Linked DNA regions of Homo sapiens. The protein of the gene in region 1 purifies or fractionates together with the protein of each later gene. This does not show direct contact. Each region holds a gene or a part of one and is shown on either strand. Other genes may lie near its edges. The genes, in order: ABCC8 and LMBR1.

What was found.
Region 2: the proteins of ABCC8 (region 1) and LMBR1 purify together in Homo sapiens (affinity purification with mass spectrometry; one large-scale study listed by BioGRID and IntAct). This does not show direct contact.

The regions. Positions count from the first base shown.
Region 1 is NC_000011.10:17,403,532-17,407,345, forward strand, and holds part of ABCC8 (ATP-binding cassette sub-family C member 8), read right to left. Parts: intron 3,679-3,814; exon of another isoform or gene 3,599-3,678; coding exon 3,357-3,598; intron 3,258-3,356; coding exon 3,091-3,257; intron 2,033-3,090; coding exon 1,963-2,032; intron 1,139-1,962; coding exon 981-1,138; intron 1-980. UniProt on the Homo sapiens protein: Regulator subunit of pancreatic ATP-sensitive potassium channel (KATP), playing a major role in the regulation of insulin release.
Region 2 is NC_000007.14:156,883,021-156,886,834, forward strand, and holds part of LMBR1 (limb region 1 protein homolog), read right to left. Parts: intron 1-3,814. UniProt on the Homo sapiens protein: Putative membrane receptor.

The DNA.
Region 1 (3,814 bases):
TTTATACAAATGTTGATCCTTTGGGGCAGGTAATTGTGTCCAAAATGCATCTAAATTTTATTATTGCTAATAAGTATCTCAACTCTAGTTTCTAGCCAACTATGTGCACTTGGGAAAGGTACTTAACCTTTCTGACCACAACCTGCAGTCAGAAATATATTTTATCTCACAAATCAGTACTCACACACCTCCATGACCAACACAAAGGTTTCATGAAGCAAAGCTTGCTTTACTCTATGAATACAGTCTGATGTTTTTTTCATTTTTAAAAAAATGCTGGTTGTGATCCATGATATTGATTTCATGACCCACTGATGGGCTGTAATTGGCAGTTTGAGAAACACTGGCCTAGACGTTCTTTAAATTTTTTCCTACAATTTTTTGAATCTATGAGTTTCTATGAATCTGGGAGAATCACTCCCAGAAAGAACTCCCTAGAGAACATTCTTAGAAAATTTTGAGGAGGAAAGAGGCGTGCATGGATCCAAAGCTCATGAGGGCAAATGTGATCCATGAGAATGGCTGTGAGAGGCTCCCTCAAGTCAAGGCTTACAGCTACACTCTGGACTCACGTGGGCTGGGAGGTGTTATCATAACACTGCTTGAATCAGGTGCCCGCCGATTTCATGCATCAGCAATCAGCCTGACCACTAGAATGATGCAACCCTCCTGGGAAGCATGTTGGCAAAATGAATGAAGGGCATAAAATGTGCATTTATCATGACCTAGCAATTCCAGTCCTGACCATATCGCCCAAGGAAATAATTCAGATGTCAACCTCAGTGTGTGCGTGTGTTGGCAGACTATTATATTAGGGCGGTGGAATAAGATGTGGATATTTCTATTTCCTTCATTTCTGTTTTTTGTTTTTATTTTTTGGAGGGAACACGACCCTATTACTCTCATAACGATGAGTCTAGCAAGTACACCAAACTGCACATTGCAAAGCACCTCCCACCCCTCACCCCTGAGGCCATCACCTGGACGCCACCCGGAAGTACTTCTGGATGAAGTAGCACACGATGGCCAGGGGCAAGAGGGCCACGAGGAACACAGGTGTGACATAGGAGATGACGGCCAGGGCTGAGACACAGAGCAGGGTGGAGCGGCTCAGGCACTCCAGCGTGGATGGGATGTGCTGAGGGAGACGAGGGGGAGAGAGTGAGGTGAATTTTGGTATTGACTGTGTTTAGAGTGCTACTGGCCGCCATGTTTTGCTCTCACTTTATTTTTTGATCCTTTATTTTTTTGAGACTGAGTCTCACTGTTGCCCAGACTTGAGTGCAGCAGCGTAATCTCGGTTCACGGCAGCCTCTGCCCCTTGGGTTCAAATGATTCTCCTGCCTCAGCTTCCCAAGTAGTTGGGATTACAGGCACCTGCCACCACACCTGGCTAATTTTTGTATTTTTAATAGAGAAGGGGTTTCATCATGTTGGCCATCAGGCTGGTCTTGAACACCTGGCCTCAAGTGATCCGCCTGCCTCCGCCTCCCAAAGTGCTGGGGTTACAGGAGTGAGCCACTGAGCCCGGCCTTGCTCTCCCTTTATTATAGGCACGTATCTCATCTCTCCAGCTACAAGGTAAACTCCCTGAGGTAGGAATCAAGATTTTGTTTTCACACCATCTGGTACAATGGTAAATAAAGAACACAGGCTGAATCAAAATGAATATTCTCCATACAATCAGCCACCTTGGTTCAGAATATGCTGGAACTTTACTAGAGAAAGCCAGTGGGATCTCAGGTGGAAGCTAAAGGGATCTGGTTTCCCTCAGCCTTACTGTGAGGCTCCCACGAGGGAGGCCCCAGCCCTGAAGCAGCATTATAATCGGATCGGGGACACTGGCTTCTTCCCAGAGGGCTGTGATCACCTGATCTGGGGAACCCAGCCTCAGACAGGAGAAGCCCCCAGGGGTCCGAGGTGTCTCTGGAAGGGGGGATAGTGTGGCACGGTCCTCTGTACCTGGTCGATGGTGTTACAGTCAGATGAAAATCTGTTCAGGATGCTCCCAAGGGGCGTGGTCTCAAAAAACCTAAGAGGCAGCCAGAGGAAGAGTTACTCATTTGTCCATTGATTTACTTCCTGTTTACTGAATGAGATAGTTAATTATTTCATGTAAGTGTCTCTGGAGTCATTCATGGGTCTGGCATCCTCTGCCAATTTGTAGACATCTGGCCTGTATCCCCGTGAATTCCTGCAGCTGCCCAAAGGGGCGCTGGCCTTTCGTTAGCCTTTCAGTTTCTCAAGCCCATCTGACGACTGCCGCCTTTCTCAGCTGCCGGCTCGGCCTGACTCAGCAGCTGTCCTCCTGGGACACAGAGTCCTCTCCAGAGGGACAACCTGCCAAGAGGAACAGGGCCCTGGGGACAGCCTGCCGGCTGGCTGACCCAGAGTCAGCCCAACCCCAACCAGGGAGTTTCAGAACTACAGAGCTGGGGCAAATAGAGAGTAAAAGTAAATAAACTTGGAGGCCATATCTGTGGGCCACAGAAAACTCATGAGGCTGGAAAGTAAAAAGTGCAGTTAGATTGTGAGGTCTAGCCTCGACAAGGGGCCAGAAAATCTGTTTGCCTGTTGTGTTTTTAAGCCAAGTTGGCCAACCAATTGGGCAGGGACAACTTTAAACCTCTTTGACATCAAGTGGCCTTTGAGATTTTTATCCATCCCATTACAGGAAATTATTAATAGAACAGCTACCTGTTCCCCCAGTGTCAAAACCTGAGGCTGGCTGAGGGAGAGAGAGTGAGGGGAGGGCAGGGAGCTGAACTCATGGGTGGGGATGGGCAAATTACACCCACTTAGGGAGGAGAAAACAATCTTTACTTGGATGTGCAGACGCTCACTTTAAAGGGCCATGGTAACAATTAAATGAGCTAACCACACACAATGCCTATCACAGTATCTGGCTGAGTAAATGCCAGTTTCTCCCTGCTTCTTGCACAAGGAGGGCACTTTTACACACACTGTCTCCTTGAGTCACCCCCACAAGCTTGTGACAGGTTGTATATCCCCATTTTATAGATGGGAAGACTAAGGCTCAGAGAACAGTGACTTGCTCACAGTCCCAGCCTGGCCAGGGGAGACGGGTACCTCATGGGGGCTAGGATGATCCGGTTTAGCAGGCTGCGGTGCAGTCTCTTGGCCACCTTCAGCCCTGTCCACTCCACAGTGACAGACGTGACGAGGCACAGCACAATGCCCAGGCTGCAGAGCACCGTGAACACCATGGCATAGACAGTCTGGTCGAGGGTGCACTCCTTCACAGGCAGAGAGTGATTTGGAGTTCCAGGGTGCCCATGGGCTCAGCCCTTCCCCCATCCCCACTCCCAACCTCTGCCATGGGCCGCCAGTCACACCTGGCTGAGGGAGCAGTTCCTGGCTGCAGGGGTCAGGGTCAGGGCGCTGTCGGTCCACTTGGCCAGCCAGTAGTCGATGGCCACCAGGACCATGTGCTTGAGCAGCTGTGAGAAGACCAGCAACGACAGGAGCAGGATGCCGGCGGAGGACAGGTACTTGGCGCAGGCTCGCCATGGGATCTCAGCACGCTGGTGCAGCATGGACGACAGGTTGTCATCCTCCTCGCTCTCAGCTGCCTCCTCTGCAGGCCGCAAGAACCCACTCTGTGGCTACACATTTCCATCCCTCTGAGGGTGAATCAGGGCATTTTATCCCCACTTACTGAGGGGACAACGGGGGCACACAGAGGGAAGCCATTTAATCAAAGGCACACTACTGCACCACACCCAGAACCCCAAACCTTAGCCTCTCTGTGGCTGATCAGACCTCAGGCCATAATTTCACTCCCAGTCCCATT
Region 2 (3,814 bases), on another chromosome or scaffold:
CGAGACTCTGACTGAAAAAAAAAATTTTTTGTTAAGAGGGTAGATCTCACATTAGGTATTCTTACTGCAATACAATCAAGTTTAAAAAAGAAGGACAGGGCCATGCATGGTGGCTCACACCTGTAATCCCAGCACTTTGGGAAGCCAAGGCAGGCAGATCACCTGAGGTCTGGAGTTCAAGACCACCCTGGCCAACAGGTGAAACCTGTCTCTACTGAAAATACAAAAATTAGCCAGGTGTGGTGGTGCACACCTGTAATCCCAGCTACTTGGGAGGCTGAGGCAGGAGAATTGCTTGAACTCGGGAGGCGGAGGCTGCAGTGAGCCAAGATCATGTCACTGCACTCCAGCCTGGGCAACAGAGCAAGACTCCATCTCAGAAAAAAAAAAGGAGGACAGAATAGGAAGACATGAAAAATTATCTCAAATGTAATTAGAATGTCCCAGTTTCCTTTAACCTCAAGTACACAACTATGGAGTGGTAAGATATACAGGGACAGCAGTGAAAGTCAAAGCCTCCTGATGAAGGAGTAGGAATCTCCTATGGCTGCTGTAACCAAATTACACAAACTTTGTGACTTAAAACAACACAAATTTATTGAGTTTCACTGGGCTAAAATCAAGGCGTGAGCAAGGTTGCTTCCTTCTGGAGACTCTAGGAAAGAATTCATTTCCTTGACGTTTCTAGCTTCTGGAGGCCGCCCACACTCCTTGGCTCATGGTCCCTCCTCCTTCCTCAAAGGGCATCACTCCAACTCTGCCTCTGTCATCACATCTCCTCTGACTCTGACCCTCCTGCCTCTCCTATAAGGACCCTGTGACCACATAGAGCCCACCTGGATAATTCAGGGTAATTCTCCTTTAACATACTCACATCTGCAAAATCCCTTTACCCATGTAAAGTAACACACCACAGGCTCCAGGGATTACCACATGGATTACCAACTTCAGGGGCCATTATGCTGCCTACCGCAGAGGGGAAGCTGATTTAACCCAGTTTAGAAAAGTCAAATACAAATGAAACCTCTATACCTCTATCCCATTCCTTTTTGCTCTTCTATGTTAGAAAATCACTTCAACTTATGTTGGCTATTGGATTTGTTTCTAATACATCATTCCACTAGAAGACTTTACAACCACGTGAGAAAAAGAAATGCAGCCCCTGACATCTGGGAGCTGGCCTGGTAATATCACAGCTGGGCCTTGGTGTTGCTGTAAACTGGCTAACAACTCAGAGCAAGGCACACACCTAGGCCTTGATGACTGACTCTTCTGCTGAACATCAACAATTTCAGAGAACATCAATATCAGACAAGACCATGATGGATAAAGACTAAACAAGACCACTCTGTAATCACTCCTGAACACAAGCAAAAAAAAAAACATGAACATTGTCCAAATCACAGAAATGACCAACTCTCTATCCTGGCTAACAGGAATGACTGTTGCTTCTTTACCAGTTACAGCTTTAGCTTTATTCCAGTCTTCTTTCCTTCTAGAAAAGATTTCTTAAGCTATCCAGTTACAGAATTTTTCCAGCTTCCTAACAGCACCCCATACAGATCAAAGCCTCACTTCCTTAAACCCTTCCCAAACTACCTAGTAGAAGCCCAAATCCCATTTGAAAAGTTACTGAAACACCCCACAGTTCCCCATGGAACTCACTGAAATATGCAATAAGCCCAATTTGTCCAACTACAGGTGTGCTCTTGGAGGTCTTTCACTGGAGGGCAATGACAAAGGTCAGAAGACTACAGACTCCAAGATAACTGCATTCTGAACTTACATACAAGATTGGTGATTGGTTCCCACCTTCTGCCCAACCACTATTCCCAAGTGGGAAGGACTAAAGTTTTTTATCTCCTGCATAAAGGGTAAGCCATAGAGTTGAGGGCAAGACACCAGTAGAAAACAGCAGGTAAACTCATCTAGAGAGGCAGTAGATGAAGGATACTTCTATCCCCATTATCTCCCCACCTCCCATTTGGCCTAAAAGGAGCCAACTAAATGGGAAGGTTCTAAAATCTCTGTTGTGTAAGTCCCAGTCTGGCTGGGCACGGTGGCTCATGCCTGTAATCCCAGCACTTTGCGAGGCCGAGGCAGGGGCGGATCACCTGAGGTCAGGAGTTCAAGACCAGCTTGGCCAACATGGCAAAACCCCATCTCTACTAAAAATACAAAAATTAGCCAGGCATGGTGGCAGGCGCCTGTAATCCCAGCTACTTGGGAGGCTGAGGCAGGATAATCACTGGAATCTGGAAGGCGGAGGTTGCAGTGAGCCAGGATCGCTCCACTGCATTCCAGCCTCGGTGACAGAGCGAGACTCCGTGTAAAAGAAAAAAAAAAAAAAGTCCCAGTCAACCCCAGACTTGGTTCCAAAAATATTCTAGCCAAGAGGGGAGCTTAAGCCATACCCAGGATAAGGAAGAATTTAGATTGCGCAGCCAGGCCAGGCATGGTGGCTCACACCTCTAATTCTAGCACTTTGGGAAGCTGAGGCAGGAGGATTACTTGAGGCCAGGAGAGTTCAAGACCAGTCTGGGTAACACGGAAATAACCCGTCCATACAAAAATGGCCAGACGCATTGACTCACACCTGTAATCCCAGCACTTTGGGAGGCCAAGGCAGGAGGATCACTTGAGGTCAGGAGTTTGAGACTAGCCTGGCCAACATGGTAAAACCCTGCCTCTACTAAAAATTCAAAAACATTAGCCGGGCATGGTGGCAGGCACCTATAATCCCAGCTACTGGGAGGCTGAGGCAGGAGAATCACTTGAACCCGGGAAGCAGAGGTTATCGTGAGCCGAGATTGTGCCACTGCACTCCAGGCTGGGTGACAGAGACTCCATATCATAAATAAATAAATAAAATTAGCCAGGCATGGTGGTGGCACCTGTAATCCCAGCTACTCAAGAGGCTGAGGCACAAGAATTGCTTGAACCCAGGAGGTAGAGGTTGCAGTGAGCTGAGATAGTGCCACTGCACTCCAGCCTGGGTGACAGAGTGAGACTCTGCCTCAAAAAAAGAAAAAAAAAAAAAAAAAGACTTCCTTCAAGTAGGAAGATCTCTTGAGCCTGGGAGATAGAGGCTACAGTAAGCCGTGTTTGTGCCACAGCATTCCAGCCTGAGTGACGGAACCACACTCTGCCTCAAAAATAATTTTGTAAAGAGTCACAGCCTACAAGGTGGCAATCCTGATAGCTGGGAAGCATCCTCCCGCAGAGCACAGAAACAGACCTTCAAGGGAGGATAGAACAGGGATTTATGCTGAACGGGTTGGCCAAGTTTATATATTTAACAGGTTATAGGAGGAGCTATGAATATTCACAAAGTGGGGGAGGTCATGCACATGCAGGCTGAATAAACATGTATGTTACATACTTATCCATATTCACTTGTGGGTGGAGACTTAACATCTAAAAGGATTACAATGAGGCCCTGTAGTCAGATGGCGAAGCAGGGACATGAAGGCACTGAAGTGCACAGCCTCTGTAAACTGGCCAGAACCAGTTCATGCTCAGTGCTCTTATCAGGAGAAAGTTACTGAAATCAGTCTCTTGTCCAATCAAAGCTATAGTTATGGCTTGTGGAACAGGAGAGTGGGGATCACTTAGGGTCTGGCAGTGAGTGAGCTGCAGTTATCTTAATATTGCTTATCTGGAGGCCAGTGCTTGTTTAGCCGCTAGAAAAAAAGAAACACCTTGAGGCAGTTAGAACCAGTTTATTCTTTAAGGGGATGCTTTACTTAACCCTTGCCTGGCATGGCCCTACATTTTGTTCACAGTTGGGTATTTTATTGCCACAAAGAGTCTG